Linked DNA regions of Homo sapiens. The protein of the gene in region 3 interacts with the protein of the main gene of each other region in a pairwise test. Each region holds a gene or a part of one and is shown on either strand. Other genes may lie near its edges.

Region 1 (3,500 bases), on a different chromosome or scaffold from region 3:
CAGCAAGTTTGCGGTAGGCAGAGAGCCAGCGGTGGTGAGAGCTGGCCTGAGAACGAGCCAGCCTTCTGGGAATGGCCGGTGTGAGAGGCCAGTGGGTGGCCTTGCCGCGCCCTTATGTCCAGACTTTGCTCTGTGAGAGGCCTGGCGCTGCGCCTTTGATTTCTGTGAGTGCTGCGGAGCAAGTGAGTGCGAAAGTGAGTGGAAACCATTTGGTGTTTGCTGGGGAAGGCCGGTGACTGGGGGGTGAATAGTGAGGCGGTGAGTCGAGGTACGTTTGTGAAGGAGGTGGTGGATGACTGCCCACCTTGCCCCAGGCGGCCGCTCAGACTTGACCTTTGCGCTTCTCCGGGATATTCTTCCTCCGGGTGGGTTGAGAAGCCGGACCAGGATTCCACGAGGGGGAAGGATTCTCTATTCTTTTTTGCGACAAATCTGGTAACAGGATTTGCTGTGCTGTTTTCGTCCGTGTGTGTGTGCGTGTGTGTGTGTGTTCGTGTGGATGCACGTGTGGCCCCGCTGGGGTGCCCCCTCCAGTGTCCCCGGAGCTGAAAGATCGCAAAGAGGATGCGAAAGGGATGGAGGACGAAGGCCAGACCAAAATCAAGCAGAGGCGAAGTCGGACCAATTTCACCCTGGAACAACTCAATGAGCTGGAGAGGCTTTTTGACGAGACCCACTATCCCGACGCCTTCATGCGAGAGGAACTGAGCCAGCGACTGGGCCTGTCGGAGGCCCGAGTGCAGGTACCCAGCTGCCAGGAGGTCGAGGGCCCAGGGAGCAGAGAGAGCCTGGGGTTGGAAAGAGGCTTGGGGGACACACTCGGGAGGTGGTGCTTCTAGTGTCTGGTGTAAGATGAGAAGGAAAGAGATATCTTTACTAGAGGTCTTATTTTCCAAAGTAGATCTTAGTCCTATAGCACTCCCCTCCTTTTTTTTTTTTCCATCCTAACATATGTTCCCAGAAGAAGAAAGCTGTGCTGGGCTTTCTCCCAGAGTTTCTATAAACCACACCCCCCTTGCCTCGCACTGGCTTTAATGTGGTTTAATCCTAATGGGCCTACTTTTATAAGGCTTAAAAAAAAATCCCACAGAAAACGTTTTATCTCTGGATGCCTTAAAAGTTCCAAAGAGTATTTTGTTCTCTGGAGTTGGATTTCCTTGAAAGTCTGCTCTGCAGGGTCTAGGTTTGTCAAGCGGATATCCCAATTAGGTTTATAGATGTGCAGACTATAAAGAAAATTAGTAACTGTTAAGTGCAGAAATTTACAGTCTGCTGTTAGCGGTCGATCTCAAACTGTGTGTGAAATAGCGGAGAAATAAACGCATTTTGGTCACTCTTTGTTCATTCATTTAACCAAGGCAACGAAACTGACCCTAAATACATTAGATTTTAAAACAAACCACATATATTAGTATTTATATTTCCAAAGCCTGCCCTCCAGCACGTGCCATACCCAATGAAGTTAGGACTGAAACAGATTTTCTTTATTGGTTGTGGAGGCAAATGTAATAGCAAAAATAGGCTTTGGGGGCATTTAAAGGAGCAAATTGTGTACATTCACATACACATATCCTTCTAGCTTTAGGGGGAACAAATTTAAATGTTTCAGATTGTATTTCCGCTCAGATAATAAAATAGAATAAAATGATAGTTATTATTGGTTTGAACACATGGAGCAGTTTTAGGCCCGCACATCTGCAGCTGTTACAAAGTATCGCTGTAACAGATACTCTTTCGGTCTCTGGGCACAGAGACCACCATCTGTAGCGAACTATGCACAATTCTTAAGGGGCTTCCCCACATCTTGTAACAGGATCAGGAAAAAAAAAAACAGAGCAGTCACGTTGAAGAGGAAAAGTAATAATAGGCTGCCTTGGTCATCACAGCATCAGCAGCAGAGCCTTCCTTTTTAAGCCTCTCCTGCTTCGCTCTGTGCACTGAGATCTCCAGAGGCTCAGCAACCCCTTAAAAACATGATGATAATTATTACAGTTATGATTATTAGTATCTTAATTCCAACTCTTCTAGGGGAAAAAAAGGCAAGAAGCCTCAGGCCATGTGAATTACACAAAGGATGCCACCCTGGCACAAAATCCACCCTCTGTTGTACTAAATAGCAGAGAAATTTTTGAAGATTTACATTGACTATGACACTTGCTTTCAAAAACATACCAATGAAAGCTCTGAAGCAGTATTTTTACTTTAATGGGGTTTTAAAAACTTTAATTTGTGAGTCAATCAATATGCTTTATTATTGAAAGTGGAATACAAAAGCAAGCTTTATTTGAATTTTAAAAAATCTGTCATACTGCCTGTAAAAGTTGTCAAGTTTAAGCAGGTAACATCCAGGAGAACAAAGTACCTAAGAGTTACTTGCTTTATATATACTTCATTCTCCTTTCGCTGAGTGCTCTTCTTTTTTTCTCTTAAGAAGTGAACTTTATTGTTGTTTCATACTTTTATTTACATTTTAGTTATTTTCTAGATGTTTTCCTACTATCCTAACTGCAAACAGTGGCTTTTTCTAAAGAAGCAAATTAGATTATCATGATAATGGTGCACAATTATTCTGCTACTGTGTTTCACTCTGCTGCACAGCAGAACAGAGAAATTCTAAACTTCTTTGTAGTGAGGCTTTTATGACACTAATTACCTCTCCCCAACCCTTACAACTCCTTCTCCGCAAAGGAGTCATTATTTGCTCTGGTGTTTGGTTTTTCTTTAAGATGAAGCTAATTAACATTACAGGCTATTAATGAACACATTCTTCTCAGGTCTTAACTGGGCAAATATCTAAACCATTATCATGTTGGTATCAGGTACCAAGCAGAGTTTTAGGCCATGGGGACTCTGTTATGTGAAAAGATGAAATCAGGACTAATAGTAATCTATCTTGTGAAAGTCTATAAAATCTATCTTTCTATTTCTGTAGTTAATTTACATGTTTAACTTTGGAATTTGAGGCTGTTTTATACAATTCAAAGATTGCTTGCTGTATCTCCCAATTCTTGTCTAAACCACGACTCTTTTCTCTTTGTACTTTTGTAATTTAAAAAAATTTTTAGTCATAACATCTAGGTTTTATTTTTTTTCCCCCTCCAACCTATAGGTTTGGTTTCAAAATCGAAGAGCTAAATGTAGAAAACAAGAAAATCAACTCCATAAAGGTATGCTTCTTATACAAGGAACATTTGATAGTCTGAGCAAAGAGAGAAGTAGTGAATATTACTATTACAATGACAGAAAAAAAGGAACCTCAAAAATGACAATAGTTCTTGACTTAATAATCTTCAAAGGCTGTTAATGGAGTCCTAAAGTTTGGGAGTAAGTTACATTTATTTAAATTTTGGATGCAGTTTAGAAAGATAATAGTCCATTTTCAAAGGAATTCGTTCTGTCTTGTACCCTTTGGAACCCTGAAAAATGCTACAAACGTTAACCTCACATTATTTTTCTCTTGTACTTTTTACAGGTGTTCTCATAGGGGCCGCCAGCCAGTT
Region 2 (2,721 bases), on a different chromosome or scaffold from region 3:
AAAACTAAGAAAGAAGCCTTTCCTTTTCTTAGTAAAGATGTAAGGAAGCTAGTTATGCTCAGGCTGGTTTGGAAGATTATGATATGGGGTAGTGAGTTTGGTGGCTCTGCAAATAAACACAGCTGCCCAGGGCCCCTACTTCTCCTGAGCTGCAGGCCCTGGAAGGTCTTGCAGTCTCCATAACCAAGCAGTGTGGTTTTGCCCCTCAGAGGCTAGCTGATCTACATAGGAGGCAGGTCAGTGTATTTGATCTAAATATTGTTTAGTTGGGTTTCATATGTAAGGGAAACTTACAGTTTTGTTTCCTTTTTCTTTTCTTTTTTAAAAATTTAAGCTGTATTATCTTTTATGTTTTAGGGCCAAAATTCCATTAAATCATGAAATAAATTATATAGCTCCTCTTCCCCCCATTCCATGCTTTCGATCATTTAATGAGGGAGTTATCTTTTTTTGAGTTATAAAGAATTCACTAATGCAGGCTGGGTACAGTGGCTTACACCTATAATCCCAGCATCTTGGGAGGCTGAGGTGGGTGGATCACTTGAGCTCAGGAGTTCAAGACCAGCCTGGCCAACATGGTGAAACCCCACCTCTACTAAAAACACAAAAATTAGCCATGCATGGTGGTGCACACCTATAATCCCAGCTACTCGGGAGGCTGAGACAGAAGAACTGCTTGAACCCAGAAGGGAGAGGTTGTGTGAACCAAGATCAAGCCACTGCACTCCAGCCTGGGTGAGAGTGAGACTCGTCTCAAAAAAAAAAAAAAAAAAAAGAATTCGCTAATGCAAGGGTTCTCAGATGAAAACCATGTTCACAATAACATGACCTATTATATGCCTTTTTCACTCACATTCTCTCACAAGGGAACAGTGCAATTTTTCAAAATATATTTGGAAGATCTGCATGACTCAATGAATTGATATTCTCCCATTGACCAATGGGTAAAGTTAGAAAATCATGCATGATAAAGATCAATTTAAAGTGTGACACAGACCTGAAGATTTCAATAAAATAGAGTAGAAAAATTTCACATTTCAGCTAACCTTTAAGAAACTATCACTTACGGAGTTTTGGTGGACTATCATAGAATATCCACAATCGTTTAAAAAAGCTTTGCCTCCCTCTCCCAACCGCATGTTAGTGATGCTAGGTCTTCTTCAAATACTCCAAACAGGACAACATAGCACAACAGAATGAATGCAGCCACACAAACGAGAAGCCGGCTGACAACTGTTAAGGCAGATATGAAAGAGATCTGTAAAATGTAAAATAATACCACTCACAAATTTCATTTTGTTTTGGAAAATATAGTTACTTTTCATTAAAATTTGTTATTTATATCAACAGGTAATATTGTTCCTTTTAAATGAATAGATATTTTTAAAATTTATGCTATGATTTCTCATAGAATAATTATTTCAGAACAAGAAACAATGAGGAAGAAAATTTTTTAAAAAGAAATAATTATTAATATTCTTTTTTTTTTTTTTTCCAGACAGAGTCTAGCTCTGTCACCCAGGCTGGAGTGCAGTGGTACAATCATAGCTCACTGCACCCCCAACCTCCCAGGCTCAGGCCATCCTCCCTCCTCAGCCTCTTGAGTAGCTGGGACCACAAGCATGCACCAGCTAATATTTAATTTGATTTAATGTAATTTATGTTATGTTTATTTTAATTTATTTTATTGTATATAGTTTTATGTCATGTTAGTTATTTATTTTATATTTCAGCTCATTTCATTTGTTTTTTGAGACAGGGTCTTGCTCTGTTGCCCAGGCTGGAGTGCAATGGTGTGATCACAGCTCACTGCAGCCTTGAACTCCTGGGCCCAAATGATCCTCCCATCTCAGCCTCCTGAGTAGCTGGGACTACAGGCACGCACCACCACAGTTGGCTAATTTTTGTATTTTTTGTAGAGATGTGGTCTTGCCATGTTGCCTAGGTTGGTCTTAAACCCCTGGCCTCAAGTGATCTTCCCTCCTTGGCCTCCCAAAGTGCTATTAATACAATTAACCACATAAATAACATCTCTTCAGATGCCTCAATAATTTTTAAGAAGGTAAAATGGGACTTGAGAACAAAAAGCTTAAGAACCTCTGCCCACGTGGAAACAATTGGTTGGCAGCAATAGGGGAAGATAAGGAGATCAAGTACAAATCCTGGATTTGTTTTTCAATTTCTTCATTGATAAGTAGGGAGTCAGATTCTGCTACTTCCTGTGGTATAATCTTTAAGAACTCACCCTGTTACAGCAGCGTTCAGAGGCAGGGAGGAATTTTATTTCAGAAGCATCACCCTCAATATGCAAAATAGGCCAATATTTCTCCTTTTACATCTTTTAAGACTGGGAGTGAGTTAGTGCCTTACGCCTATAATTCCAGTTCATTGAGAGGCCAACGGGGGAGGATTGCTTGAAGCCAGGAGTTTGAGAATGGCCTGGGCAACACAGCAAGACCCCATTTTATAAGTAAAATACAAATGAACAAACAAAAGACTAAGAGTGATCAAAGCGATTTTTGAAAAGGTGATTATGACTCCAGGGTTGATTCAATTAAGCAATCCTATAAGAGCCATCCTTGAGCAATTTTATATTATACCCACTTCACCCTTTATTTTTCAACATAGGAATAATAACAGGATAAACTTTTGGTAAGGAGTTCAAGGGCTGTTTTGTAGAAAAACAAAACTCAGGATATCAGTTCTTATAGAGCAATGGTT
Region 3 (3,500 bases):
GGCATGAGCCACCGTGCCCAGCTATAATGACATTTTCAAAAAAATAAAAACTAGGTCGGGTGTGGTGGCTCATGCCTGTAATCCCAGCACTTTGGGAGGCAGAGGTGGGTGGATCACCTGAGGTCAGGAGTTCGAGATCAGCCTGGCCAACATGGCAAAACCCCATCTCTGCTAAAAATACAAAAATTAGCTGGGTGTGGTGGCATGCACCTGTAATCCCAGCTACTCAGGAGGCTGAGGCAGGAGAATCACCTGAACCCGGGAGGCAGAGGTTGCAGTGAGTCGAGATCACGCCATTGCACTCCAGCCTGGGTGACAAGAGCAAAACTTCATCTCAAAAAATAAATCAATAAAAAATAAATAAAAACTAAAAGAATTCATGATTAACAGACTACACTGTAAGAGAGAGGAGAGTTCCTCAGAGAAAAAGAAAATTATACCAAATAAAATTATAGAAATGCAGGAAGAAAGAAACACAAAAAAGGGCAAATATGTGGGTAAATCTAAATTCATATGGGCTGTACAAAGAAATAATTCTTGTGGTGTTTAATATATCTTAATATCTAAAAAGTGTTCTAAGGTATTAGCATCATTGGAGAAGTAGTAAAAATAATCACTTATTTTTATATTGTAATAAGTCAAGATGCGTGCTGTAATCTCAAGAGTGATCACCAAAAGAACCGTAAAGGAATGTAAAACATAAGAGCTAACAAAGAGAGAACATGCACGGTCACGCATCATGTAACATTTCAGTCAACGGACTGCATATACGACAGTGATAGATTGTATCATATTTTTACTATACCTTTTCTATGTTTAGGTACACAAATACCGTTGTATTACAGTTATCTACTGTATTCAGTACAGTAACATGTTGTAAAGGTTTGTAGCCTAGGAGCAACAGGCTATGCCATACAGCCTAGGCATGTAGCAGGCTATACCATCTAGGTTTGTGTAAGTACACTCTATGATGTTCACACAATGATGAAACTGCCTAACGACACATTTCTCGGACTGAATCCTTGTTAAGACACACATGAGGGCCAGGTGCGGTGGCTCATGCCTTTAATCCCAGCACTTTGGAAGGTTGAGGCAGGTGGATCACTTGAGGCCAGGAGTTCAAGAACAGCCTGGCCAACATGGCAAAACCCTGTCTCCGCTAAAACTACAAAAATTAGCCGGGCATGGCAGCACACACCTGTAATTCCAGCTATTCGAGTGGCTGAGGCATGGGAATTGCCTGAGGTTGCTGTGAGCCGAGATCACGCCGCTGCACTCCAGCCTGGGTGACCGAGCGAGACTGTCTCCAAAAAAAAAGAGAGACGCATGACTATAATTTTAAGTCCTTGATTAATTTAAAAGAAGGCAAAACAGGTGAGAAAAAGGGGGACATAACAGACAGGTCAAATAGTAAACAAACAAAAACTAAGGTAGTAGATATAAACTCCAATACATCCACAATTGCATTTAAATGTAAATGGACTAAATATTCTCATTGTAAGATTATCAGTCTACACTTAAAACACACAAAAAACCAACTATATATGCTGCTCATAGATATGCATTAAACATAAGGACATTTTAAAAGTTGAAAGTACAGGGGAAAAAAAAAAGGTAACATGCAAACATTACCCAAAACAAAGCTGGAATGTAGCTATAGTAATATCAGACAATGAGGACTTTCACAGAGATGAAAAGAGGCATAACATAAGAATGAAGGGTCAATCCCTAGGAGGATATAAGAAGAATTCTAAATCTGGCCGGGCGCGGTGGCTCACGCCTGTAATCCTAGCACTTTAGGAGGCCGAGGCGGGCGGATCATGAGGTCAGGAGATCGAGACTTATCACGCACGTGTAGTCTCAGCTACTCGGGAGGCTGAGGCAGGAGAATCACTTGAACCCAGGAGGCAGAAGTTGCAGTGAGCCAAGATTGTGCCACTGCACTCCAGCCTGGGCGACAGAGCAAGACTCTGTCTCAAACAAAAAAAAAGAATTCTGAATCTGTAGGCAACAAATAACATAGCTTCAAACCATATAAAGCACAAGTCAATAGACTAAAAGTAGGTAAATCCACAATCATAGCAGACTTTTTAATGCCTCTCTCGATAGCTTATTGAATAAGCAAACCAAAATCACTTAAAAATCTGATCAATATGAATAATAAACCAGACTAGATAGACGGATCACTGCACTCAACATGAATTATTTTCAGGTAAACATGGAACATTTACCAAAATATTCCCATTTGGAATCAACGGCAAGACCCTTATTTTACAAAAGAGAAAACCACGGTAGAGCCCAAGGTCACACTGGAAGCACAGTTGTAATCAAAGGACAGCTATTATGATGAACTAAAGTTCAGTTCTGACCCCATATCCAATATATGACCCTTTCTTTCACACCACTCTTTAAGAAAATCTAATATCCACAGATCATCCTGCCCATAGCATCACAGTCATAATGTCCCATAGCCAAATTGGACTTAGGACTCATGCCCCGCCCCCATTTCAGCATCAAAATGAGCCCCTGGAATTGGAAAGTCCTTGACTTCCACTTCTATATAGCTGAATACCTACTGCCAACCTCGCTGAAAACCCGTCTGGGTCCCTGCAGCAGCCCTACCTCCCTGAGACCTAGAGCAATCCCTTTCCTTCATAACCCCGTGTAAAAACTTCCTAAAGTCTGTCAGTCTGCACCTGAAAAACACCTTTCCTCCATGAAGGGAAGAAAGGCTAGAGGTATTTTCTAGGAGAACAAAGCGCAACAGTGCAACTACAAACTGTTTGGATGATGACCCACCAGTAAGCTATATATTTCACATTGTAGTGAAGAACATACTTAAATAGTATGTATGTCTCTGAAACTAAAATATCTTGCCATGTGTATAGTTCATTGTAAGGATGTACGATATTAATTCTAATCTTTTCTATTGAATTCCATTCTGTTTAACTTGTTTTTTGAGACAGAGTCTCACTCTGTCGCCCCCACTGGAGTGCAGTGGCGCAATCTCAGCTCACTGCAACCTCTCCCTCCTGGGCTCAAGCAATTCTTGTGCCTCAGCCTCCCGAGTAGCTGGGATTACAGTCACATGCCACCACACCTAGCTAATTTTTGTATTTTTTTAGTAGGAATTGGGGTTTCACCATGTTGGCCAGGCTGGTCTCAAACTCCTGACCTCAGGTGATTCTCCCACCTCGGCCTCCCAAAGTGCTGAGATTACAGTTAACTTGTTTTTTATATGCTGATCCTGATGCATTAAATTAATTTCACAGTTACTAAAGGGTCATAACCTACAGTTTGAAAGGTTCAACTGGGTGAGCCAGAAGGCCCAGAATTCCCCACTAGGGCCAGAACGGCACGTTCTTTCCTGACCTGGCTTCTCTTTGCTCCCATCCTGCCATCTCCAAGCCTGAAACATCATCTGTCAATTGCTTGGGCAACAACATGAGCATCTCTGAATCATAGCTGTGGGCAATCCTCCAGCACACAGACACCCACAG
Region 4 (4,144 bases), on a different chromosome or scaffold from region 3:
CTGGGCGTGGTGGCGCCTGCCGATAATCCCAGCTATTCGGGAGGCTGAGGCAGGAAAACTGCTTGAATCCGGGAGGCAGAGGTTGCAGTGAGCGGAGATCGCGCCACTGCACTCCAGCCTGGGTGAAACTCTATCTCAAAAAGTAAATAAACAAATAAATAAACTGATAGGTACAACACACTCATCTTGCAAACTGCTGCAAACGGAGAGGGGGTGAGGGTGGGGTGGGGTGCTGCATGTGCCAGGCCTGCCTGGTGGGTGGCTGGGGAGCCGACCTGCCCTGGGCCTCCTGGGGAAAAAGGGCAGTTAGGCGGGTAATGAACATTGATCTGGGGAAATGGATCCTTTCCTAGATAGCAGGGCCTCTCACTATCACTGGGCAATCAAGACGACTGTAAAACGTTAAACACCTTCTCGGGCCGGGCAGCTCTGCACGAGAAAACCCCAAATCCCACATACTTCCACCACTCCCAGAAGCCCTGTGGTGGTTAACTGGGGAACTCTGTAGGGTTCAAACGCCATATTTGCCCCTTACTGGATGTGTGACCTGCGGCGGGTCCCTGTGCCTCTCTGGGTCTCAGTTTCCTCATCTGTAAGACGGTGATATAATAGTACCTAGCTCAAAGGTTTAATGCTGGTAGATTCCTGAGCAAAGGTCCGGGGAGAGAAGAGGCTCGGTCTGCAAGAGTTGTCATTTGTTGGCTGCGGTGAGACCACGCCCCGTCGCCCTCCCACACCTGACCCCGCCCTCCCGCGTCCATTGGGAACGCCACCGGAAGTAATGCGAGACGGAGCGTTTTGGTGGAGACACTCACTGGGGCAATCTGAGGTAATCCAACAGACTGTGGCGGAGGGACCGGAAGCGCCAGGCAGGGACCCGGGGTAGATGCTAAATCCAAACTGAAACGTACAGGGCTGGATGATTGAAGCACCAGCGGGAACTAGTCGGACCTCCGAGCTCTTTAAACTGTCCTCAGCTCGGCTGGTTCTCCACGAGCTCCGGGCAGACGGCGGGGGGTGGGTCGGCGTTTAAGTCAAAGGCCTTGGGGCTCCGAGTCCCTTCCTCTCCCCGTCCTGTGAAGGCACGACCCAGTTCAGCTGTCTGTAAAGTGGAGCCATTAGTCCCTGCCTCGTAGTGGGAAAACTGGGAGGCGGAACGAGGAGGCCGCCGGTCCCAACCCGGCCCAGGAGCATCTTTCTCCGCAGACCGTTTCCTGGCGAGGTGCGTCTTCGTCCTTTTCCGCCCTTGGGAACTTAGAGCGGCCCCTTGGCCGCTGGTTCCGCGCCTCCCGCGGTTGGGGGCGTGCCCGAAGTCTCTCTACGGAAGCTGGTAGGGCTGTGGGTGCTTCACTATGGCGACGGTGGGGGCTCCGCGGCACTTCTGCCGCTGCGCCTGCTTCTGCACCGATAACTTGTACGTGGCGCGCTATGGGCTGCACGTGCGCTTCCGAGGCGAGCAGCAGCTGCGCCGGGACTACGGCCCGGTGAGTGGCCGCTGTCGTCCCTACGGAGCAGTGGGCAGAGAGGGGTAGTGGAGGAGGGAAGTTCGTCCCCAGGGTCGTTTGCTTTGCGCACGCCGCGCACCGTATCTTCAAATACAAGAATGACGGCCTCTCTCTGCCTCGGTTTTCTCACCGTAAAGGGGTAATAGTATCTCCCTGTGAGATTGTGAGGAAGGAATGAACAAGCATGTAGGGTGCTTAGGACAGGGCCGGGCTCAGCTTGCCGCCTCACAGCAACACCAGCCCGGAGCCCTGTCCTGAGCTTGACAGGGTTCCGCAGTTCATTCTCTCCATGATCCTTTGAGGTCGGGGCTCCTCTCCCCATTTTAAGCAGGGGAAACTGAGGCTTAGAGAGTGAAGGGATTTCCTCAGGTCATACAGTCATGCTCAGTGTTCTTTCTGCTCCCAGATCCTGCGCAGCCGAGGCTGTGTTAGCGCCAAGGACTTCCAGCAGCTGTTAGCAGAGGTACCAGTCCCCTGCCCCTGCACAGCTCCTCCTCGTTAGATTTGTGTCCGCAGCTTGAGGACACAGCTTGAGCCTAGCCTCAGTCCCTGATCCCTGAAGGGTCACTTAGGCCCTCACTTTCCTCCTTCCTGCCCCCCACTCATCCCTCCACACCTGAGTCTTGGCACCAGGAGAGAGAAGGGGAAATGCTAAGTTGCTAAGTTGCCTAGTCATGCCGTTCTTAACAGCTCTGTGAGATAAGCACAAGCACCACTCTCATTTTGGATTGAGAAGCTGAGGCTTAAAGAGGGATCCCTTGCCCAAGCTTTTACAGCAGGAGCAGATGTGATCCCAGCCACAGCTTCCAGGCCCCTGGGCTCCTCACACCTTACCATATACCCCGCAGGCTGCTGCCAGGGCTGCTGCCCCACTCCCTCCTCCTCCTTCCCCTGGAGTCAGTGGTGGGAAGCTTCCCAGGAGAGTCCTCAGCAACCTCTGGAACACAGGACTTGGCCATGACTGTCTCCTGTCCCTGTGTGGGCCCAGATGGTTGAGGTACATCTAGGGGTTCTCATCCCAGCTAGGCTCAGGTTGGGGCAGCCTGAAACAGGATGGGTCCCCTTCTAGAAGTCCCTTTCAGCTAACAGTCTGGAACTTGCAGTTGACCCAGATAGATTCAGGAGTGTAGGCTAGACTTGGCTTCCAGCCTGGGCCCTGTCTGGCGTTCTGGGCTTCAGTTTCTTCATCTGTACAGTGGCCTCAGGAGGATGGGAGGCCCCACCTGGTAACAACCCTGTGCCACCCCAGCTTGAGCAGGAGGTGGAGCGGCGGCAGCGGCTGGGGCAGGAGTCAGCAGCTAGGAAAGCCCTCATCGCGAGTTCCTACCACCCGGCACGGCCTGAGGTCTACGACTCACTGCAGGTACCAGCCAGCCAGAGTGCTTGAAGGCCGGTACTGGAAAGAGGAGGTAGCATCCAGGGCTGGGGGTGCTGCCTGCCCCACAGCTGGTGTGTTTTGCTCCCAGGATGCAGCTCTGGCCCCCGAGTTCCTGGCCGTGACTGAGTACAGCGTGTCCCCAGACGCAGACCTCAAGGGCCTTCTCCAGCGGCTGGAGACAGTATCGGGTGAGGTCCTGGCCCTGAGACCTGGCAGGACCAGGGAATGGCAGCCTGGGAAACCTGGGTGTGGGATGCTGGGGTCCCTCCAGCCACCATCTCTGCCTCCAAAAACCAAACCAGCAGGAGCTGGAAGGGTCAGTGGGACCAACCTGCCAGGAGCAGGACATCCGCATTCATTCATTCAATACCTGCCATGAGCCTGGTATCTTCATTCTTTCCTTCACCCTTCCTTCGTGCCCTCATCCAGCAAATAGTGGATATTTGTGTCATGTGTGGGACAGCTGGCACACTCAAACAGGGCTGATCCAAGATCTTAAAGGGACCATTGAGACAGGTATGGGCAGGATAAAGGGACCAGTAAGGAATGGCAAAGCCCGGCCCCCCAGGGCTGGCAACAGGAGGGAGCAGTTACCACCTGGAGTTGTGGCTCTGGGCGGAGGCCTGCGGCCATGCCAAACTCCAAGTAGGGCAAAAAATGCCCCACTTCTCTTCGGATTTCTTGCTGGGCTCACTTATTGGCTAAACCCAGCAGGAAATGCTGGGCAAGGGAGGTTTGCGTGTTGTTTAACCTCTGATTCAGTTTCCTCATCTGTAAAATGGGAGCAACAGTAACCCCCTCTCTTAAGGCACTGCGACGATCAAGTGAGTTAATCTGCATAGAGTGCCTGTCACAGGGCCCGCACGTAGTGTTTGGAAAGTGTTTCCTATTCTTATTGGCACTGATAGCCTGGGCTAGGGGCTCCTGTGGGAGGCAGATACAAGTTTCCCCTCATGGAGCCTGTGCTTTGTTGGGAGTCATGGGTGGAATGAATCCCCCTCCTCCCAGCCTGGGGGTGCTCTCCTCATTGCCTTCCACTCCCCGGCAGCTGAGATAGTGCTGAGGCTGTTGGCTGGGGCAGGGCCTAGGCTGCGAGGTGGCCCCATCGTGGGCACACTAGCCCTGCACCCCTGGGCATTGGTGCGTCCGCCAAGAAATGTTTAGGTTTCCATTCTCAGCCTGGTTTCTTCCCCCTCAGGGCCCAGCAAGAAAGAACAGCCCCTTCTGGCCTTCCTGCTGGGGGACAGAGGCTCCCAGAGCC
Region 5 (3,500 bases), on a different chromosome or scaffold from region 3:
CCACACCTTCCTCACCGCCTGCATTCCACTGCTCCAGCTATTTTAACGGCGGGTGTGTCCCCGCAACTTCTGTATTTTCCCTGGAATCCCTCACCCTCCTGTGATTATCTTGCCCAAAGGCTAGGCGGATTTCTTCTAGTGGGAAAGTAAAAAGGAAAGTTTATCTTTGGATTTTCACTCTCTTTAAAGAGCAGTGGGCAGGCTCGTTTCTTTCTCGCCCTCTGGGTTTGTGGCTCTTTCCTATTATTCATCCCCTGCTGCTGCTATTGCCTTGGGGATTTTGATGAGAAAAACAGCGCTGGGCGCTCCCTAGCACGTGGTGCGGGCTCTACAGCCCTTGGCTGCTAAGGAGCGCTCTTGTCAGCACAGGTTTCATTTGCAGCATGAATTCCAGACGGCAGGGCGCTGGTGGAGGAGACTAGTCCCTGCTATTCTTCCTCTGCAGTCTTGGAGGAGGCCAGGCCTGGACTGGCCAATCTTAGCCCTAGCCAGGTATTCAACGACCCCTGCTCCCCAAACTGGGGTGCTGTTTTCAGATGGAGGCAGGGCCTCTCCAGGCAGGGCTACAGGTGGAGGTCAGCACTGGGGGCGCTTTGGCTCCACTGGCCTCCTAAGCAGTTTATTAGCCTGCCCAAGCCCCAAGTGTATTGTTTGAATGGGTCTATCCCCCTCCCCAAATTGGTCCTAATTCTAATATGGTTCAAAGAATGAGACAAGATCCTAATTCTAATAGCTCGTCTTTTCACCCCCCTTTCTTATATACCTATTTTTGGAGCCTCACTGCTTATAGATTCCAATTTTTGTAGGTAGAATTTTCTACATTCCCTCTGAATGTTAGTTGTCAGTTGTATTTAGCTAATCCCATAATTCCCAGAGGAAGGCAGAAGAAAGAAGACTTCTCTGCTCCTGGGCTGGTGGAAGGGAGGTCTCGCCATTTTTCTGTCTCCTTTCTTTTTATAGTCCCAGAATTCCTATTCAGAATATCTTGTCTCCTCCCTTCCGCTCACCCTCCAACTCCCTCCACCCACTCCATCACCTGGTCTCCCCCGTATTAGGTGGGTAAAGAGAATATAGTATAGTAACCCCCCACCTTCATTGCTGGGTCAAGATTTTCACTGGTGAATAGACAACATGGTGCAAGGTGCATAATAAATATTTGTTGAATACATGGAAAAATCAATGATGTTTTAGGAAAATAATTTTTAAGTTCTATATGTCCAGGTGGCCCCAGCCTACATTCTTCAGCATTTGAATTCTGTCAAGTTGACTGCAACCTCTCTCTTTTTCTCTCTGGCTCCCCACCCCCTCCTTCCCTTGGCTCTCTGCTTCTCCCTCCCCACCCTTGGTGCAGAGGAGGCTGGCAGCTGTGTGCAGGATGGGCAGAGGTATAATGATAAGGATGTGTGGAAGCCGGAGCCCTGCCGGATCTGTGTCTGTGACACTGGGACTGTCCTCTGCGACGACATAATCTGTGAAGACGTGAAAGACTGCCTCAGCCCTGAGATCCCCTTCGGAGAGTGCTGCCCCATCTGCCCAACTGACCTCGCCACTGCCAGTGGTTGTAATTTATTTATTTCCTGTTCAACATAAATAAATTACTTGCAAGCACTGCAAACACGCTCCCATAGATGCTGGTCGTCTCTGCAAAGCAGAGGGGCTAGTTATCCATGGGACCTGGTAGCTGGGGTAGAAAGGAAAGGCCACTTCTCACTTGCAGGTTGAAACTGAGTGAACGAGCCTGAGACACTAGAGGGGTCCTTCTTTGCCCAACATCTCCAAAAACATTTGCTTCCAAGACACATGAAGGACAGATGTGATTCTACAAAAAAAAAAAAAAAAAAATCCTCTCTGAAATCATCTCTGCAAATTACTAGAGCCACTATGGAGATCAAATGCTCTGTCTGGCCAATCCACGAATTAATTCCTCCTCTGCCACCGACACCTTGTCTTCTCCTTAGAAGACTTCTATGTATGTGGTCTTCAGTGTGGAGAAAGCTCTGCCAGCTAGTGGGGAGACTGCAGGGGCAGAGGCTCCCTCTTTGAGTTATGGAACATTGGTGGTAGTTTCCTCTCTGCTATTACCTCTCTTGGAGTTGACCATTAATTCAGAAGCAAAATAATAGGAGAGGGAAGGGCTAGGCTTTGGGAGTTCTCGTGGGGACGGGTGGAGACAGAGCCCCATGTATCTGCACTGTAGTGGGTGGTTATAAACTCCCAGTTAGATCCAGTGCTGGTGGATGATATATGTGCAGGTGACCCCTTCCCAGCATTCATACAGATGTCCTATCTCCCTGCAGAGTGAGTGGGGACGCTTGTGTAGGTTTTTTGGGTAGCTCTTGCTGTCCGCTTCCTGCTGAAGTAGAGAAGGCCGTGGCAAGGGAAGTGAGAAGCTGCCTTTCCTTAACACTTCACCAACACTGGCTCCCTAATGTGCAGATTCCCAGATCCTTTCTGAGGGGCCCGTGTGAGTGAAGTGTTGATTGCCTTTACTATTTTGCTGCTACTGTGAAGGAGAGGTTATTGACTGGGGATGGCACAGGCTATGATGCTCCGATGCTCTTCATAACTCATATGCCTTGCTGTTTTTGTGTTTTTATTTGTGCTTGCTTCAAGGAGACCCAGCTCTAATGTAAGACCTTTCTAAGTACCTAACTCTTCCTCTGGGAGGGCTTGGGGTTCGGGAACGGCTCCCTACCCTGTGGGGGGAAGAGAGACTGAATCTGTGCTTTCCTTCTTGTGGCTGATTAGATCTTGAGCTCTTCATTGCCTTTTTGTGCTGCCCTTGCTCCTTTCTTTTGCATGCTGCCTGCTTTTTGAATAACAAAGTCTGGGTCACCTCCATTCCTCATGGGACCTCAGCAACCCCAGGGCCACAGTGGCCCTAACACCCCAACAGAGGGGTTCAGTGGAGTCACAGGAAGCTGCCGCCTTCCTTGATTGTGTCCTTTTACTTGTTTGATCTAATGAGTGTTTGAGTGACAAGAATAGGTATTTTTCCATCTCAAGATTCTTACCTTCTTCTTCTCTATATTTTTTCCCTTGCAGGGCAACCAGGACCAAAGGTAAGGGCTTTCTTCTTTTTCTTTTTTCATATTTTTTTGGCTTTATATTTTCTGCTTCAAAAGCAATGCTATGTTAATCCAGTCTGTGATTTTTTAGACATCAGAAGATATCTGTTTCAGAGGGTACCTCAACACAGGGGCTGCTGGCAGGGTTTTAGACTAGGGGCTTAGTGGGCTTACTCGGCTTAATCCTGTGAATGTTTCATGTTTCAGGGACAGAAAGGAGAACCTGGAGACATCAAGGATGTAAGTGCAAATTATTCTCACCCGGTATTGCAGCTGCTGCTCTAAATGGGTCATTTCCTTGTGCTCTCCTCTAACTTACCATCCTGTGGGGCTCTCTCTCACAGATTGTAGGACCCAAAGGACCTCCTGGGCCTCAGGTAAGAGAGGGAGAAATCTCTTTCTCCGTCCCTTCCTCGCTGCGCGCAAGTTACT
Region 6 (3,500 bases), on a different chromosome or scaffold from region 3:
GGCGGCCGGGCCGGAGGTAATTGGAACAAACGCCGTCTGAAAAGGGCACAAAAGCCGCAGCTGGGGCTTTGTCCGCGCTCCCACGGGGAGCCGCCGGCCCCGCCGCCCGGCCCCTTTCTCGCCCGCTGCCGGTCGCCACCGCCGGGATCTCCCAGCGCGGATTAGGCGGGGCTGCCTCGCTGGGGGCTGGGGAGTCTTCCCCACCATTACGGGGAACGAGGGGCCCCCAGTATCCAGCTCCCCACCTCATCCAGCGCGCAGGGAGAGGAGGCGGTGGGATAGGTCGGGGCGGGGGCGAAGTGGTCCTCGGGGAAACCTTGGTTAATTATCCAGGCGGGGAAAAATTCCGGGCCGGTACCGCCCCCACTACCTCGCTGCTCCGGGCCCAGATTTTGTAGGGAAAGAGGCAAATTTAGGTGGAGAGAGTCGGTGAGTGGAGACTCCGGAAGACACGCCCACCATCCGGGCTCTCCAGGGTTGGGGGTCTGTCCGGGGTTGGGGGTCTGTCCAGGGTTGGGGGGCTGTCCAGGGTTGGGCGGCTGGGGCGCTCCAGCCTGAGCCCTGCCACTGCCTGGGGTCTCTGCCCTGAAAAGCACAGCCTGGCATTTTGCCCACAATTTCTAGGGGCCCCGGTCCGGTCTCAAGGTCTAATCCCCCCTCAGGCTTCCGGATGTGCTGAGGTTAGTGATGGGGTTATCTTCCCTTCCCTTCTGCGTCTACCTGGGTGCCTAGCTCCTGCCTTGCTAACACTGCCACTGAACCCACTTTCTAAGAGAAATTGCCTCTTCCTAACCTGCGTTACAACTCAGAAGTGCAGATGCCTCTCAGACATAGACAGTCCTGGGGTCTCTCCAAATTCAGAAGCTTCAGAATAGAAGAGGAGAGGTGCTTTCTTGAGCCCTCAGCCCTGGGAAGAACAGGACAGTGAGCTTGGTGAGCTCAAGCAATGCGGCTCAGGGTAAGGAGCTGAAAAAATCGGATAGGGGGAGTTGGGATGGCTCACCAATCCAGTGTGAGGGAAGTGAGAGGAGGAAAAGCTGAGGTGGCAAGGGGACAGCTCACCCCAGGCCCAAGCCTGGTACCACCATCTGAAGCCCTTTGTAAACTGGGGCTCCTCGCTCTCTGCAGCCCCAAAGACGGTGGAAATCTGGGGTTGGCCCAACACTTGTGCCCCCAGTCTGTAGGAACCCCAGGGGTCTCGGGGCTGGAGGGTGGACTACAGTCCTGCCCAGAGCAACTGCCGGCATTTGGGCTAACACTGCCAGATGCTGTGCGCACACACCCCGCCACATGGAACAGGAGTTGCTGCCTTCGATGCTAGTGAGCAGGCGGCTTGGAATGAATCCAGACCCCCATCCCCTCCCCTCACACTACCCTCCAGCGCTCGGAATCCACCTCATGCCAAGTACACCAGGCACAGGGCGGCAGGAAGGCTGTGCGTCTGTCCGTGGGGGCCGCATGCATGTGGATTTGCCAGTACTGGCCTCAGTGTGACTGGTGGGAGTGTGCGCGTCTGTGGAGTTGTGTCTCCGTGAGTGTACCTGTGTGTGAGAGGGTGGAATTTACCTATACGTGATCGTGCGATCGTGTCTAGACGTGTGTCCCTGGAGTCTCTGAACGCAAGTGTGAGTGCACCTTGTGCCCTGCGTGGGTGAATGTGTCACTGTATCTCGTGTGTGCTTCTGTGTGCATCACTGTATGGGTGAGACCATGTATCTGATTTTGTGTCCAGGACATGTGGGTGAGTGTACATGTGTCTGTGATCGTGTGTCCAGCGAGTGGGCGATGTTCTGGAGCGGCGGAAAGCGTGCTGGCCGGGACCCTTCGCCCTCAGCTCCCGGAATAGGACAGGTGCGGAACAGCGAATCCCGGGGCGCCCCTTACCTCCGTAGTAGGTGTACGGGGTGGACCCCAACATCTCAGACTCGTCCAAGCGGCCGCCCAGCGGACGCATGCGCCGCGGACTCCGGAAGAAGGCGTGCCTCCGGGCGCCTAGGGCGCTCAGCTGTTTCATCCGGCGTTCTTTGGACCGTCGGTTCTGAAACCACACCTGGGACAGAGGAGGGGGCTGTGAACCCAGGATCAGGAGTGTCCTCTCCCCCCCTCTTCTCCCTTCCCTGACTGGGCTGCCCCTGCTGGGTCCTTGCGCCTCTTCCGCACCAGGACTCCCCCGAGGCGGGGCCGGGCCGGATTAGGCCGGGAGGGGTGGAGAGAGGCTTCGGCGAACCAGCCAAGGGTGAAGGATTTCGCGGACCCGTGGGGCGACTCATAAAGACTTGGGCTTCCTGGTCCCCGGCTCGCCCGCGGCCTGACGGCTCTATAAAGGCCTCCCTCCCGGCACGGCTCTCGCCTCGGCCCCTCGGCTCCGGAGCCAGCCTCTGGCCGTTTGTCTGCCCGCGCTTCGGCGCAGGGAGGGAGGGGGCATCGCCTGTTTCTCTGCTCGAAAGGTGGAGGTAAAGAGGGATCCCGGACCCCAGAGAGGCTTACAACCTTCCATAAGCAAGGCGGGGGGCGGAATTCAGAGAGGTAAAGTGACCCGCCCCCAAATCGCAATACCAGGAGGACAGCAGGGCTAGATGGAATCTTTCGGTTCACAGTCCCCGACCTCGGGCAAGTGCCCCACTCGGGCGCACGGTCTGCTCCCAGACCAGAACCAGGCGCGCTCGTAGCCAAGGAAGCTTGGCGGGAGACTCCTCCGAGGCTCCCGGCTCCCAGGCCAGCGGGGCTAAGGAGCTGTGCCCGCCCCGGGCCGCACCTGGATGACGCGCATGTTGAGGCCGGTCTCCTGCGCCAGCTGCTCGCGGATGTGGCGCGTGGGCTTGGGCGTGGCGGCGAAGGCAGCCTTGAGCGTCTCCAGCTGCTTGGCCTTGATGGTGGTGCGGGGGCCGCGCCGCTTGGTGCCCGAGTTCTGCTCCTCGTTCTCGTTGTTGGCCGTCTCCTTGTCCGACGAGGTCGAGTTGTCCGTCTCTTTGGGGTCGTCCTGCAGTGCGTCCTGGAGGTCCGGGGACAAACTGCGGTCCGTACAGGATGACACTGCGGGCGGACGGATCGGGAAGGGGACAGCGGCGTCAGCGACGGCCAGACGCCTCTTCAGTCCAGTGGCGGGTTCCCGCCGGCCCAAGCTACGGCCTGCCCAGGCTACGGCCAGCCCCGCTGGATTCCCTCCCAAACCTGCGACAGCCCCTCCCCCAGGGACCCGGTGCCCGCCCACTCTCTCCAGGCGGGGCTGGGCCTTTGGAGGGGCGCTCTTAAGCCCTCTCCGCGCGTCTCAGCTAGTACCTGGGTAAGGGTAGGGGGACGCGTACCCTCTGGAGAACTCCCACTTTCAAGGAGAGGGGACAAGGAGGGCACAGATTCCCTTGGGGCTTGGATCTTCCTCTCTCTTCCCTCCTCTCTCCAGACCTCAATTAATGTCCTTCCAGTGCATCAAGAAATTACCTGGAGCTCAAGTGACACATAAGGGGGAATTGTGCGCTTCCAAATTAGGGGAGGAGGGCAAC
Region 7 (3,500 bases), on a different chromosome or scaffold from region 3:
TGGTGAGGATCGGCGCGGCCCGGGGCGTTCTCTAGGTAGTGGGAGTAGCAGAACCACAGAAGCCAGCAGCCAAGCCCGTGCGGGGGTGAAAGAGGGACGGGGAGCCCAGTGCCACCCGTGGAGGCGCTCCTGACAGGGGCTCCACCCCAAGGTCATGGTGGGGCTGCGGTCGTCCCAGACTCCAGGACCAGAAGGGGCTCTGGTTTGAATCCAAGCTCACGGCCTTCAGGGGCTGCAGAGAATTCTAAGCCTGAGGGCTCACAACTGCACCTGCTGAACTCCCTTTACACCAAAAAGGGCCAGGGAGGGGACAGTTTGGCAGGGAGGTGGCGTGGTGGGGTGGAGGCTGGAGTCGGCACGGTTTGTTTAATTCTAGTTCTCTTGCTGTGAACGAATCATGCCACCTCTGAGCCTCGGTTCCCTGATCTCAAACGGGAAAGACGAATATGTAACCAAGCTGGAATTGCTGTGATGGCATGGCTGCTGTGACCTGGAGGGAAACTGCTGGCAAGACCACACCCCCCAACCCCCATCCACACACCCCACACCTCCACACCTCCTCACACCCTACACCTCCATACACCCCACACAGCTCCACACACCCCACACCTCCACACACCTCACACCTCCACACACCACACACAGCTCCACACACCCACCTCCACACACCTCACACCCCACCTCACACACCCCACACTTCTACACACCCTACACACCTCACCCCTCCACACACCTCACACCTCCATACACCCCACACACCCACCTCCATACACCCCACACCTCCACACACACTCCACACACACTCCACACCTCCATACACCCCACACCTCCACACACCCCACACACCCTCACCTCCACACACCCCACACACCCTCACCTCTACACACCCCACACACCCCACACCTCCACACACCCATACAGACTGCCCGAACCCAAATCCTGTCACGGTGGCGAGAACGCCAGACCAGAACGATGGCCCCCAGCTCAGGGTCGCCCTCCGTGTGGCTGGAATGCCCTACTCAGGCTGAGGGGGGCCTTTTCCTTTGGAAAAGCCTGCCAACTCCAGAGCCATCTCCGGGTGAGCCTGGGCCTCGCCTCTGCCCAGCCCTGGTGAGGCCGGGCACAGCATCCCACCCCCGCCCACCCACCCCAGCCCTTGCAGCTTTTCAGAGCAGAAGGGAGCTTTCCATTAGCCACGTGTCTCAGAAGGGGCCAGCCAGGCGACCCACCAAGAGCGTGTCCTTCCCAGGTAAACCCGAGTGCCACAGAAGGTTGCCAGCCCGGGCTGCCAACGAGTCTGGCTCCTCCCCCAGGGCAGGGGAAGGGCAGGGCGTGCAGAGCCCTGGGCTGGGGGCAGGAGCTCGAGGCCCACCCCTCCCTGAGCCCACCTCCTCGCCTGTGGGCTGGAGGTCGGACACGATCGGAAGCCACCCTTGCCGCATGCCAGGCGCTTCGAGTATTTCCTAGACCTCGCCAAGCCCCTCTGCTAAGCGGAGGCTCCGAGAGGACCTGCTGAGATGACACAGACACTGAGGGCCAGCAGGGCCACGGCCACCCTCCCTGCCCGCCACCACGCCCACTCAAGAGCGTCTGGACTGGCCACAGTCCACACTTCCACAGCCCAGGGGTGGAAGCAGGGCCAGCACCCGCTTGGGAAAGGTTCAGAACTTGACCATCACAGGCTGCTCCGAGCAGGTCTTGCTGTAACTCCCTGGACCTGCTGTGGTCCTAAAGCCCCTTCTTCTGTGGCCATGCAACGAGCAGGGCAGGGGTCACCGAGGGACCCCTCTCAAGCAGCCCACGTGGCGGCCACACAGGGCTGGGGGTCAGGGCAGCAGACCTGGGCAGCAGACCTGGGCCGCTGTCTGGGGGCCTTTCCCGAGACACGTGCTGGCCCTGGCGGAAGGGACGGTTGTCCCCGCATCCTGAGCCGGGCGCCGCCTCTCACCCACAACTTGTTGCTTACAAAAATCACAAAGTCCTCAAGAACAAGCCCCCTCATGCCAGCTGTGACTGGAGGAGAGGAGCTGAACTCTGGGGCTGCGGTGGAAAGTCAGCTTCCAGGGGCCGCCTCTGCTGCCGAGCGGGGGCAGGGAGAAGGGCCACTGAGCCCCTTCCCCCAGGAGTCAGGGAGCAGAGAGAAGGAAGAGGGTCTGTGCAGAAGAGTCAGAGGCAGCGAGGCCGGAAGGAGGCTTAGCAAAGGCCAGAGAGCTTTTGGGAACAAGAACTACCTTTCACGGACATTTTCCTCAATCTCTTAACTGAGCCGTGACTTTTGGAAGCCAGACGGGAGGCGGGAGGGCTGGTGGGCTGGGGTGCGCGGCTAAGACACACAGGGAGTCCAATGGCTGACATCAGAACACTCGTCATGCCTGCACGGGTGTGAGAGCAGACACGCAGAGAGGGAGAGACATTAGAAGACTCCTTCGGCATGTGACGCCAACAAACCCTGCTCAGGCCAAGGATGTGACACCATCAATGGCCACGGGGACGCACAGGTCTCCCTGGGGACTACCCAGGCCAGGAATCAGAGGGTGGGGCAGCCTGGCTCATGGTAGCCCTGGCCCCAGAGCCCACAGGTTTCTATAGGAGCAACAGACAAGCCCGTGCCCTCAGTGTGCAGGTGGGCACCGGGGCAGGACCCGTGACTTCAGGAGAGCAGAGGGCGGAGGACGCCACTCCAGGAAGCCGCCCGGGGCACGGGGTCTCCTGGGTGGGGCTGGCTCCAAGGGCTCAGCTTCCCCAGGAGGCCCTGGGCCCTCCTGGCTTGGAGTTACTAGGCCTCCAGCCTCCACTGGGTGCTGTGTGTGCTCCATGCCCCTCCTGGCTGATCTGGGTGCCAGGGCCTTCAGCGACAGCGCTGGGGTAGGCGGGCAGGAACGTGGCCCCTGGGCCTGCTCCCACACTGCAGCATCCCCATACTGTGAGGGCTGGGCTGCAGCAAGGCCCCAGGCTGTGGCTCTGGCGCCCTCGGGCAAGGGTGGGCCTGTGGCCAGCAGCTATGCTGGGACAGACCGGCCACTCTTTCCAGAGCTCACCACTGCCGGATGCCTGCAGGGAACCCCACACTTGCCCTGGGGGACTCTCCTCTGACACTGCTTCCTTCGTGCTCCCTGATGACCCAGCGCTTCCTGGGACACAGCGTGTCCTGCTGGACGAACCCGTTCCTGCCACACCCTCGGCCTACCCCACTTTCCATAGTGCCAGCTCCCCGGTCCTCCCTGTCATCGGTCAGTTAGGTCAAAAGCACCTCCTCTCCAGAGAAAGGGGAAGCCTAGAGCTTCTTAGCCATCTCTTAAGGTGGCTTCCAGGGTCTGCAGAACCTGGCTCAGGAGCTGGGCACAGCCGGCTGCCGGGGGAGTTGGTAGAAATCCCAGTCCTCCTGGACCCCACTCCCCATCCAGGAACAGATGGCGTGACTCAGGGGTGAAGGGCGGCCAGGCCAGCCACTGCGCCCCCACTAGAAGAACAAAGCTTCTCAACCCGGCACATGTGCCTGG

The links.
Region 1: the proteins of COQ8A (region 3) and SHOX2 interact in binary tests that used the Homo sapiens proteins (3 or more experiments, as listed by UniProt).
Region 2: the proteins of COQ8A (region 3) and LDAF1 interact in binary tests that used the Homo sapiens proteins (3 or more experiments, as listed by UniProt).
Region 4: the proteins of COQ8A (region 3) and OGFOD2 interact in binary tests that used the Homo sapiens proteins (3 or more experiments, as listed by UniProt).
Region 5: the proteins of COQ8A (region 3) and COL2A1 interact in binary tests that used the Homo sapiens proteins (3 or more experiments, as listed by UniProt).
Region 6: the proteins of COQ8A (region 3) and LHX5 interact in binary tests that used the Homo sapiens proteins (3 or more experiments, as listed by UniProt).
Region 7: the proteins of COQ8A (region 3) and DTX2 interact in binary tests that used the Homo sapiens proteins (3 or more experiments, as listed by UniProt).

What each region holds. Positions count from the first base shown.
Region 1 is NC_000003.12:158,099,921-158,103,420, reverse strand, and holds part of SHOX2 (short stature homeobox protein 2), read left to right. Parts: exon of another isoform or gene 1-193; coding exon of another isoform or gene 194-194; intron 195-534; coding exon 535-743; intron 744-3,109; coding exon 3,110-3,167; intron 3,168-3,472; coding exon 3,473-3,500. UniProt on the Homo sapiens protein: May be a growth regulator and have a role in specifying neural systems involved in processing somatosensory information, as well as in face and body structure formation.
Region 2 is NC_000016.10:21,175,674-21,178,394, reverse strand, and holds part of LDAF1 (lipid droplet assembly factor 1), read right to left. Parts: intron 1,259-2,721; coding exon of another isoform or gene 1,237-1,258; exon of another isoform or gene 1,234-1,236; coding exon of another isoform or gene 1,161-1,233; exon of another isoform or gene 1-1,160. UniProt on the Homo sapiens protein: Plays an important role in the formation of lipid droplets (LD) which are storage organelles at the center of lipid and energy homeostasis. In association with BSCL2/seipin, defines the sites of LD formation in the endoplasmic reticulum.
Region 3 is NC_000001.11:226,967,794-226,971,293, reverse strand, and holds part of COQ8A (atypical kinase COQ8A, mitochondrial), read right to left. Parts: intron 1-3,500. UniProt on the Homo sapiens protein: Atypical kinase involved in the biosynthesis of coenzyme Q, also named ubiquinone, an essential lipid-soluble electron transporter for aerobic cellular respiration.
Region 4 is NC_000012.12:122,973,900-122,978,043, forward strand, and holds the start of OGFOD2 (2-oxoglutarate and iron-dependent oxygenase domain-containing protein 2), read left to right. Parts: upstream 1-1,344; 5' UTR 1,345-1,352; coding exon 1,353-1,484; intron 1,485-1,911; coding exon 1,912-1,968; intron 1,969-2,353; exon of another isoform or gene 2,354-2,493; coding exon of another isoform or gene 2,494-2,502; intron 2,503-2,754; coding exon 2,755-2,868; intron 2,869-2,971; coding exon 2,972-3,071; exon of another isoform or gene 3,072-3,267; intron 3,268-4,081; exon of another isoform or gene 4,082-4,144.
Region 5 is NC_000012.12:47,997,977-48,001,476, reverse strand, and holds part of COL2A1 (collagen alpha-1(II) chain isoform 1 precursor), read left to right. Parts: exon of another isoform or gene 1-492; intron 493-1,351; coding exon 1,352-1,558; coding exon of another isoform or gene 1,559-1,561; intron 1,562-3,045; coding exon 3,046-3,062; intron 3,063-3,275; coding exon 3,276-3,308; intron 3,309-3,412; coding exon 3,413-3,445; intron 3,446-3,500. UniProt on the Homo sapiens protein: Type II collagen is specific for cartilaginous tissues. It is essential for the normal embryonic development of the skeleton, for linear growth and for the ability of cartilage to resist compressive forces.
Region 6 is NC_000012.12:113,465,372-113,468,871, forward strand, and holds part of LHX5 (LIM/homeobox protein Lhx5), read right to left. Parts: intron 3,034-3,500; coding exon 2,756-3,033; intron 2,051-2,755; coding exon 1,885-2,050; intron 1-1,884. UniProt on the Homo sapiens protein: Plays an essential role in the regulation of neuronal differentiation and migration during development of the central nervous system.
Region 7 is NC_000007.14:76,496,209-76,499,708, reverse strand, and holds part of DTX2 (probable E3 ubiquitin-protein ligase DTX2), read right to left. Parts: intron 2,373-3,500; coding exon 2,232-2,372; intron 1-2,231. UniProt on the Homo sapiens protein: Regulator of Notch signaling, a signaling pathway involved in cell-cell communications that regulates a broad spectrum of cell-fate determinations.